Linked DNA regions of Homo sapiens: region 1 is linked to region 2. Evidence: fine-mapped expression QTL. A gene starts in region 2. The other region holds a variant in brackets. All regions are shown on one strand. Distances are between the middles of the regions. Region 1 overlaps TET2 (tet methylcytosine dioxygenase 2). Region 2 holds the start of TET2 (tet methylcytosine dioxygenase 2).

The links. PIP is the estimated chance that this variant, and not a neighbour inherited with it, causes the effect.
Region 1: its variant is the best candidate, but not a certain one, in a credible set for the expression of TET2 in whole blood (INTERVAL, PIP 0.60).

Annotation. Positions count from the first base shown.
Region 1 is chr4:105,181,956-105,187,339 of GRCh38, reverse strand. The region is part of intron 1 of TET2 (tet methylcytosine dioxygenase 2); the gene reads right to left. The region is part of intron 2 of TET2-AS1 (TET2 antisense RNA 1); the gene reads left to right. Among named protein-coding and RNA genes, the nearest start is that of TET2, 38 kb to the right of the region's middle. The variant G/T (reference allele first, on the strand shown) is at 2,144.
Region 2 is chr4:105,143,501-105,148,884 of GRCh38, reverse strand. It overlaps TET2 (tet methylcytosine dioxygenase 2), which reads right to left and starts at 2,009. Exons shown (of 11, transcript NM_001127208.3): 1 at 1,906-2,009. It overlaps LOC124900868, which reads left to right. Exons shown (of 3, transcript XM_047416559.1): 2 at 1,924-3,390. The coding sequence ends at 2,612. RefSeq lists silencers at 1,035-1,104, 2,068-2,747 and enhancers at 1,435-1,484, 1,828-1,997, 5,142-5,384.

The sequences.
Region 1 (5,384 bases), 38 kb before region 2:
ATCTGAGTTCAGCAACTGACAAACCAAATACTGAGGAAGGCAGAGGAGTTTTTACCTTCTGTTTTCTGTTTAAAATAGTAAAACAAAACTTAAAAAGTAAAAAATATAACTTTATTAAGCTTTATAGAACTTGTTTTTATCAGAATTTGAGTTGGTATCACATTTTTAACTATACCAAGGTGGTGCTTGTGGTTCTTGGAATGGTGTGAGCAGTTCTAGGGGGATTTCCCTCTCTGAGCTGGCACAAGATTGGGAGTCCTGGAGGACATGAGTGTCACTACCAGCAGTTATCTGGTTGACTGGGAATCAAGCTGGCAAACTATCAAGGAGAAACCATGAATTCTAGTTTTATATGCCCAAAACAGTCCCCTTTAGTAAAAAGAGGTGATCCCCAACAAATAGAATAGTCTCTTGCTAGAATATAGTTCCTCAGTAGCCAATAATTCTGGCTTTGTTCAGCTTTGCAAAGTCTCCAATATGATAATATTCTGATAAATACAGTGATGACTCACAGGCTTATATACATGTTTTGAAAGAGAAGCTTAATGATGCTATTTTGGATCATGAAGCCAGGCCGCGGTGGCTCATGCCTGCAATCCCAGCACTTTGGGAGGCCAAGGTGGGTGGATCACTTGAGGTCAGGAGTTTGAGACCTGCCTAGACAACATGATGAAACCCCGTCTCTACTAAAAATATAAAAATTATCCAGGCATGGTGGTGCAAGCCTGTAGTCCCAGCTACTGGGGAGGCTGAGGCGGGAGAATCGCCTCCAGGAGGCGGAGGTTGCAATAAGCTGAGATCGCACCACTGCACTCCAGCCTGGGTGACAGAGTGAGACTCCATCTCAAAAAAAAAAAAAAAAAAAAGAAAATGCAAAATACAGTCAGCTTATACACTGAGTTTTCCTTCTGCCATGATACATTGAGAGTTATAAAAAAATCACTTAGAAGATAAAACGGAACAAACATATGAAGGGTAGTGCTGAAGACAGAGGTTAAGATAAGGGCCATGAAGGGGGTTAAAGAAAAATCTAAGCCGATGAGCACATTTAAATGTTCTCATTCCCACACACATATCTACTGTTGTTTTTGTTTTTTTGTTTGTTTTCTTGAGACAGGGTCTTGCTCTGTCACCCAGGCTCAAGTGCAGTGGCACGATCTCGGCTCACTGCAGCACTGACCTCCCAGACTCAAGCTATCCTTCCATCTCAGTCTCCCAAGTGGCTAGGACTACAGGCATGTACCACCACACCCAGCACATTTTTTGTTTATTTTTTGTAGAGATGAGGTCTCACTATGTTGCCCAGGCAGGTCTCAAACTCCTAACCTCAAGTGATCCACCTGCGTCAACCTTCCAAAGTGCTGGGATTACAGGTGTGAGCCACCACGCCCAGCCATATCTACATTTTTAATTGAATAAAATACACTTCACCATCAAAGTTGCAATCATTTTGAGCATAATATCATTCCTAAACATATTTTCCTTTGTTCCCTAAATTGAAGCCTATTCTATTTTATCTTTATAAACTATTCACTGTTCTATTTTTATTTTTTATTTTTTAGAGACAGAGTCTTGCTCTGTAGCCCAGGCTGGAGTGCAGTGGTGCGATCTTGGCTCACTGCAAGCTCCGCCTCCCCGGTTCACGCCATTCTCCTGCCTCAGCCTCCTGAGTAGCTGGGATTACAGGCGCATGCCCCCACGCCTGGCTAATTTTTGTATTTTTAGTAGAGACGGGATTTCACCGTGTTAGCCAGGATGGTCTCGATCTCCTGACCTCGTGATCCGCATACCTCGGCCTCCGAAAGTGCTGGGATTACAGGCATGAGCCACTGCGCCTGGTCTCACTGTGTTTTAGAAAGGTATTATCTACTTTATCTGCAATATTTTCCAAATAGATTTAGAAAAAAAAGACAATAAAAATAGCTAAAATTTATTGAATGGATTCTAAGTCATCTAATTTTCAAAATACTATCAGTTGTTTACCTTAGCACACCCTTTGTGGGTGGCAGGGCCTCCAGAGCCTGTGCTCTTATTCAACATGCTTCATGGCCTCCACAAGCTTGTAGGAGATTCAGTGAAACATTTCATTTTGGGGAAAGGTAAATAATTCTACATTTCAAAGCCTAGAGACAGACAAGTTTTC[G/T]TTCAAAAATGAAGGAAAAAAAAAAACCTCTTCTCTAAAAACCAGTCACTCTACCTATAAACATGAATATATCATTACAAGCTAGGCACCTTATATAAGAATCCTCCATTTGGGGTTTAAATGCATTTTCCTTTCAAGAGATAGATCCACCATTGATCAAACATCATCAAACACTTCCGTTACAAAAAAGGGACTTTGTTTATCATGCTGAATTTAGTCCTTCCCTTCCCTTTGTGATATTAGTACACCTTCATGGCATGTTTCTTCAAAGCCCCAGTAATAGATGTTTCCTTCCTGTTGAAATGCTGCTTTGGCTGCTTCTGTGCTTGATGTGGTTCTCCTCCAGGTTTAAATGGGATGAGACTGGAGTTCACTAATCAGCACGTTACTCACCTCAGCAGGATATGCCCACAAAGTGTTTCTCCTATTCTTATACACATGAGTACACACATAAATACACACACACACACACACACCTCTCTGCAAGTAAATGATTCCAACTGTACAGTGCCTAAAGGGAAGTGCTATTTCAGAATGTCAGCTACTTGGCAGTGATGGCTATTCTCCTGTTAATGCTTTAAAAAACCACTACAGTAGTCAAAGTTTTAAGAAGAAAATTAAAGACCTTAAATGTATTCACTTCCTGCTCCTCCTAACATAGACAAAGTGGTGACTCCCAGTAAAGAACTCAGTGTTTGCAGAACAAATTCCATGAAGATAAAAACAAGCATACACCATATGAGGTTGTTTCTAATTAACAGTCTTTATATAACTACGATAGCCAAACAAGGCTGAAATATCAACCACCAGTTATAAACAATTTAACATAGTATTTCCATTATACAAAGTGATTATTTAAGAACCAAACACTGGAACATGAGAGGTACAGGTATAAATTCACAAGGCATTGTGTATAGATTATCAGATCAATTTATATAGTTTCCGAAAATAAAAAGAAGTTATGAGGGAATATTTTTTAAAATAATAGATATTTTTAAAAACCAAGATGGAAAACATTTCAGAAGAAAATACCCTATAAACATCACACAGAAAATGCAAAAAAAAATTCTGCATCTGAAACACAAACTTTTCACGACATTCTGACACTGGCTAATACTTGACCTCACTGGTCAGAGACTGGGCCAATGAAGGATGTGCTCAAAATCTTAACTTTGAAAAGCCTCTTAAGGGTATGGTTTATTTTTCATCCACTAAAATAGAAAATATAATTCTCTACAATAGACTTACCATTCCTAACATCCAGGCATTTTAGAGATCCCCGCTAGAAATTTCAAGTAGTATAGGAGAAGAAAGGAGTGAAAGGGGAAGAAAGGGGCAAAGAAAGGTAACTTGCATTGATTTTGATGCTTTAATAGTCATTTTCTTTTTCTTCACACAAGGAACTTCAGGTATTTGTGATTGTATTTGCGCGGCTGACTACAGGGCAATAATTCTATTGGGAGCTAGGTTTTTAGCTGAATCTCAGAATGTCTCTCCTGTAACTTCCATAAACCCACAGGCAAACTAAGGGGGTAGGCTGTAGAAGAGATAACAAAGTATAAATTAATCTTGGGTTCTAATTCTGACTCTAATCCTCCATAAATTCATGATCTTGAGCCGATCACTTAGGGAAACTGAGGACTAGAGAGCCTATAAGATGTTAAATTGTATTATTTCTGTTCCAACCCAGCTTTAAGGTTTTATGATTCCATGATTTAGATACTATCGAATTTGAGATAAAAAATATATATAGGAAAAAGAGTTATTGAAATGAATAGGTATAAAAACACAAGCAAAATTATATTAATGGAATTATTCTAAGTCTACTTGTGTGATATTAAGTTTATAAAAGGATATCCCTTACATTGTAATATATAACTATAATTGATAGCCACAATACTTATTATTGATTCCAAAGCAATTTTTACAATATATATTCTATTCCTTATATTTAGTAATTTAATATTACAAAATGATGTAATGGTTTCTGGGGAGTAATGAGTCTACTACCATGGTTCTCTTAGACTGAACTGCTAATTGCATCCATTTAAAACAGCCACAGATTGAGGATCAATAAACTGGTAGACTTTAAGTGCTTTTTAAAAACTGCTTCCAATCTATAGCATTAACCCAGATATTTTAAAAATGATTTTATTTTTCGTATTTTGGGGGGATAAGTATTAGGTATACATGAACCCTACCTTACAATTTCTTCAAAATGGATGGAAAGAATGAATTTTTAAATCACTTATGTCATAAATTATTTATAGCCCAAATATCTTCATCTAAGGATGCTTTAAGTCATATGACCTATATGAGCTAAGGTTTAAAGACATTACATTAATATCATGAATATAAACATCAAAGGATCAATTATAAAAATTCTAATGCTTAATGGGATGGCAAACTACAAAATAAAATTTTACACTATAGTATAAAGCTGCTGACATTTGATCAGTCACTATTTTTAAAAAAATTCCTTCAGTAACAATATTCTCTAATGTTCATTCTAAAAATTGAAACAAGGAAATTTTTATCTAATCTATTTCTAATAGAAAGGCAAATAAAAAATACTTTTTTAAAGATTTCAAAACGTATAGGAAAACTCTGCAGTTATGTTTACCTGGTTTGTTAAAAACAAACTATGCATTCTGCAAAATTGCAAGTGTCTACTTTTATCATAAGGTAATCTTAAAAGTAGTTTAGTAAACATCAAGTTACGACAAGTAGACGTCTCCCTTACCACACAGGAGTGATAATCAAAATATTTAACAGCTCATATGTCCAGGCATGAGACATAGTGCTGGAGGAGGATCCTAGAGGAACCTACATGCCATTTATTATTCTAGCTGCAGGATGGTGGGTAGACCCAGGGAGTAATGGGGAAGGAGCTATAGTGGCTTAGGGTAGCAGAATTACTAGCTACCTTGGAAATCTTTCAGTAACCATCAGCACAGCCACACTCATGTGCACCTGCTGCCTATCAGCTCTGGTTGTTTGCATGATTCTTAAATAAGGGATAAAAAAGTATTAAGCAACTGTTACAAGTCTTTGCAAATTACCATTTGTCACTGGAAAAAAATGTAACTATTAACTTTGGTTGTAGCCAGAGAACAAATGATAGGGAAAATTTGATAAAAGAAATAAAAATTTAAAGATGCAATATTTAAAAATGTTTTCGAATTATACATAAAATTACATAAAATATTTTCATAATATTAAAATTATATAAAAATGAAAG
Region 2 (5,384 bases):
AATAGTTTTGGAAATTCGACTTATGGAGAAATATCTATTATTGTGTTTTTCCTTCTATCCATTTTTTAATCCTATAAATTGTCTTCTAAACTTCAGTTTGATTATCCAACACTTCATTAACCGTTCTCTGCTTATTAACATTTAAAAAAATCAATATTTATTGTGTTTAAATTTATATTCTATTCCAAACATTATTAAGCACACATACAAACATGTAAAAGAACATAACTCCCCTTAGTATTTCAACTTTCCATTAAAATGCAAATGTAATGATTTCATTAGCCAGGCAACAATACCCACAGTATCACACCAAACCAAACCAATGTCTTTTCTCTGTGAATCCCAACTTCCCTTAAGATACAATCTTATTCCTATGATGGATCATTTGTTGATGAATATCTTTGAATTTGGGTTTCCCATTATAATCCCTGACTGAAGGGGAAAAAGCACAATGTGTGATTTGAGATATTAAATTCATGAATGTATTCCACTCCCTAGACACGTAAATATATAAATATTTCACTAAATTTTATGCACTAAATTTTACCGCTGGAAAATAAGCCTTTTCTCAATTCTTAAACATTAGATGAAGAAGGGAGAACTCCCTCAATGTAATTAAAAGTATATCATGAGGGGAATAACCAGCAAATAACACTTATATTTCATTTTCGGCCTTTCCAGGAGTCTATCCAGGCCACACTTCATTATGTCATAGGTAGAAAACTCTCCATACAAACCCTATTAGCTTAATAAAACTAGACAAGCAGTCCCAGTGAAAAGATTCAGCAAGATGCGAGTGAGGTGTGTGTGTGTGTGTGTGTGTGTATGTGTATGAGAGAGAGAGAAGAAAGAGTAGAGAGGAGACACAGAGAGAAAGGCAGAGAGATGAAAGACCAAAGAGAGAAGCCAAAGAGAAATTTGGATGGGACTGTTATAAATCTGCTCTTCACTTCTTTGCTGGGATTGGGTTTCATTTCTTTAGGCGCCCCTGACCTTGCAGTCTTGCAACTCCAACGCTGCGCTCCCCACCCCCTCCCGCCCCCTCCCCGGGCCTGCGCCTGCCTTTGTGTCTGCCTGTCACTTACCAAGGAACCAAACGAAGCTGATTCGGGAGAAGCACAAAGCCGGGACACAGATTTGTCCATAAATTCTCTTACATACATTCCCCAGGCTGGAAGGCTCAGCCCAGCGCTGACTTATGTACCTTGAGAAAAGTGAGTTCTGGTCTTGTTTGGGGAACCAGAGAAACTATTCTTTCCTCTTTCACTCAGCGCCGCTAACAAAACGCGCGGACTTAAGGAAAAAAAAAACCCACTCAGTGTACTCCAATTCCACTCCCTGTGACATTCACTTCGTACAGCCCCCTAAAGGGGGATAAGAAGGTAGGAGGAGGCAGACACAAACCCAGACCCAGACCCTACAGCTGATAAAAGGGTCGAAAAACACCCTATCAGTGTTCTCTCTGAGGTTGTTCAGGATAAACGGGAGACTCGTTTCACTTACACGAAAGAAACAGGGGAAGAGGATTAAAGGGAAAAGTAGTGCCCCCAAAGCTGAACTATTTTAGAAAGGAAAGCAAATTTAAAAATCACTTTTCTGAGGATTAAAAAAGGCCGGGAAACCGGCTCGTCGGAGGCACAAAGGTAAGTTTTCTGGGAGATGAGGGGACGAGCATTAGGAGGAGAGAAGAGAACACAGAACTACAGGTTTAAAAGGGGTAGAGGGAATTAAAACTATATTTGTCAGCCATGTTGAAGAGGCTCCAGTAATTTGTGAAGCTTCCCTCTTCCCTCTTGGTATTTGTGGGTGACACTACAGGGTTTGCTCCCCAGTCCCTGGAAGCCCGAGAAAAAGCGAAGGGGAGAAGAAAGGGAGAGTTTCGCGGCATAAGAGAAGCGCTCTGACCTCGTTCTCGTCCCTCAGCCTTGCAGCAATCCAGCAGTTGCAGTCGGGTCTCCTTTCTAACAAATCCTAAAGGGCAGCCATCTTGCTTCCTTCTGCTTCTCTACGAAAGCAGCCTAGCCTCCGCATCAATATTCATAAGGCAGTTTGACGTCTGTTCTCATCACTCAGCGGGGCCGGCGTCTCGGGGCGGCCGCGCCGAGGGGGCGGACGTGACTTGCATGCGAGCGGGACCCGGGCGCGCGGCGCTCGCGAGGAGGCGGCGGCGGCCGCCCAAGCTCTCGCCGCTGCCACTGCCGCTACCGCCGGCTCTCCTCCTCCGCCCGGGCCTCCTCCTGCTCCGCCCCGGCCTCCTCCCGCTCCGCCCCGGCCTGCGCCGCCGCCCTGGGGCCCTCAGCCCCGGCTCCCAGGGAATTAGCCCCCCGCACCGGGCGTCCAGCACAAAGGCCGGCGGCACCTGGGGCCGTACAGCGGGGCGCGCAGTGGAGACCTGGGCTGCCCTCACGCCGTGCAGTGGCGCGGGGGGAGTGGTGCGCCCGGACCAGCGCGGAGTAGGGGCCAGGGCTGGCGAGCGCGGGGAAGGGTGCAGCCCTCGGGAACCCCGGGGACCTCGGCGGGTCTCCACCCCTGGGAGAAGAAGCAGAGCAAGCGCGAAGGTTGGGGGCGAGGTGGGAGGTTGGGATGGCACGGGTGCCTGGACAAAGACGTGACATCTAAGATTTCCCTTTGAAACTTTTTGCTGGTCTGCACTCCACCACCACTTCGAGGTCCCGCGCACACGCCCCCGCGCGCACCCACCTCCTCCGGAGTGTACCCGCACGTGCCCTCGCTCTGGCCCCCGCCTCCACCCACTGGCACCTCTCCCCGCACCACACCTCCGCTTGCGCCCACCTTACCCTCAGAGGCCCGCGTCTCTATCTCCCTTTAGATCCCGTTGCCCGCGCTCTCCTTTCCCTTTTCTGTCGCTTTAATCTCATTCAGCAGAAGCGCTCCCCTGTTTCACCGAGGGCATGCCCTTAGTGCTTTAGGGGCCTGTATTTTTAAAGACCCGACAAACTGGGAAATTGACCGAGTTCTGTTTCTCCCCGCCCCGGCCCACCTTCTGTTTACTTTAGCCACGTGGGCTGAGTAGAAGGGGGCGTCTCACAGATTGAAATAGGTTTCTCACTAGTGACCCCCTACTTCTCGCTAGGAGGAAATAAACCTGCACTTTCAAATGCTTAAGTTGCCTCTCGTAAGAGCCCTTACTTTGAAGTAGTTTCCCCCCGTACAATTAAGTAATGAAGAAACCGACCGATACAGAGCTAATTCCGAATGACGGATGCTTGATTTTCCCTGACATTCGGAGCTCTGTAACTATGCTCTTCCTTTGACCGGAGTTTTTCTCTATTGCCGAGTAGTGTTACTTCCCCCTTCTAATGCTCCTTTTTCTAATCATCAACTTTTTATTTGAAGATGAGATGAAGAACAAAGCCCATATGAGTCATAGTAAGTATCATATTACGTCAGATAGTCGTTTTTGAAATATTCCCTTCATCTTTTACATGTTCTTACATGACTGACGTTCAAATTTTAAGTGGGTATTTTGGTCACATCTTTTATGGGATCACTGCATGGTGATCACAGTACCCTTAAGTCAATACTAGTTATATTGTGTAACCACACTTTTTTTGGTCTGTAATTTTTTTTAAAAGCGAAGCCCTAATTTTACGAAATCGGAATATTTCCTCTTTGAAGAGTGTGAAAAAGGGAACTCCTTGCAAGTGTCGCATTGTTGCTAAGAAGAATGTTTAGTGGGTCCAATCAAACTTTGTTTATTCCATTTTGAAACAAAGTTGACTCAGATTTCAGATTTTGCACAAACTAAGGAAATAGTACATTTTCCCTTAAACATTTCAGGTGGGAATGACATTCCATGTTTTCTAGCTGTACACTAAAGCGTCACTTAGGTCTTGGAAATTGTTAATGCACTTTAAAATCTAAGCTGTTTGAAAGTTCTTTGTGATCTTTATTTCTTTCTTTCTTTTCTTTCCTTTTCTTTCTTTCTTGAGACAGCCTCTCTCTGTCACCCAGGCTGGAGTGCAGTGGCGCGATCTCGGCTCACTGCAACCTCGGCCTTCCGGGTTCAAGCGATTCTTCTGCCTCAGCCTCCGGAGTAGCTGGGACTACAGGCGTGCGCCACCACGCCCAGCTATTTTTTGTATTTTTAATAGAGACGGGGTTTCACCATATTGGCCAGGCTGGTCTGGAACTCCTGACCTCCCAGAGTGCTGGGATTACAGGCGTGAGCCACCGCGCCCGGCTTGTGATGTATTTTTCAAGTCCAGGAAATAAAGTTCTCTCAAGACCACAACATACATTTATACAGTGCACAGTATTGCAGAGTTGTTGAAACATGGGCTTTGGAGTTTTACAGAGCTGAGTGACTCTTAACTCTATCTTTTCCAGTGTGACCTTGTGCATTTTACTTAACTCTCTCGGTATCGGTTTCTTTCAATCTGTTCAACAACCTGTAAGACAGCAGAGTTGTGGTGAGTTTTTAATAAGAGCACTAGGTAAGTGCCCAGGTAGTTACTACTACTACAGTAACAAACCATTTACTTCTAGGAGTTATTTTGTTTCTGACTATAGAAGTATATAATTATATATCTTCTTACATTTAATAATATGTGGAAAATATTATATTAGCATGTGTTTAATATAAAAGTATCCGTAGGTTCCTTTAGTTATAACTGGGAAATGATCTTTCAGGTCACCTCCCTCTCATTTCTTCTTTGAAAACTGCTCTCTGTTGTAACAGGGTGTTCTTACCTATTTGGAATCATGTTTGGGTTGCAGTTGGTTTTACAACAGGCCCTGAACATTTTCTTGCCAACTTCTTTCTCTGCACCTCCACTCTACCCTTAACCATCATGACTTTTTAAAAGTTAAAATAAAATACATTACTCCTCTTGGCTATTGTGATTTTTCAACAGCAAAAGGAAGTAAAATTCTGCAGGCCTTCACGTATAAAATATTTTAGTTAGATTTTTTTTTTGATTTGAAAAACTTCCTCCTGCTATTTCTGGGAAAGAAAGGATATAGTTTGCAAATCAGTTGTTTACTGAACGCAGTGCGCACTTGTATGGGTAATTCAGAACCAGCTTTTATTAATTGTGTGCATTCTTGAGATTCCTCCTCCTACAGGTGTGGACAATCTGTGTTTAAAATATAATTTGCTGTTTTAACAACAATTAATTATCAAATTCTTTACCATTTTTTTCCTCAAACTAGAAATAGCAGCACTGCTTCCATACAGAGAGATCCTTGCTTCCTTAACAGAGAAAAAAGACTAATAGAACAAGTTCCACAACATGCTACTCTGTGTTAGAAAATTGACTTGATTGGCCTGCGCACCTGCTATCTAACTCAGTTGCTCAGTCTTTAAGTCTCAGGGTGGAGGCAGTTTCCTGTCTGCTGCTGTCCATTAAAGAGCTGATGAT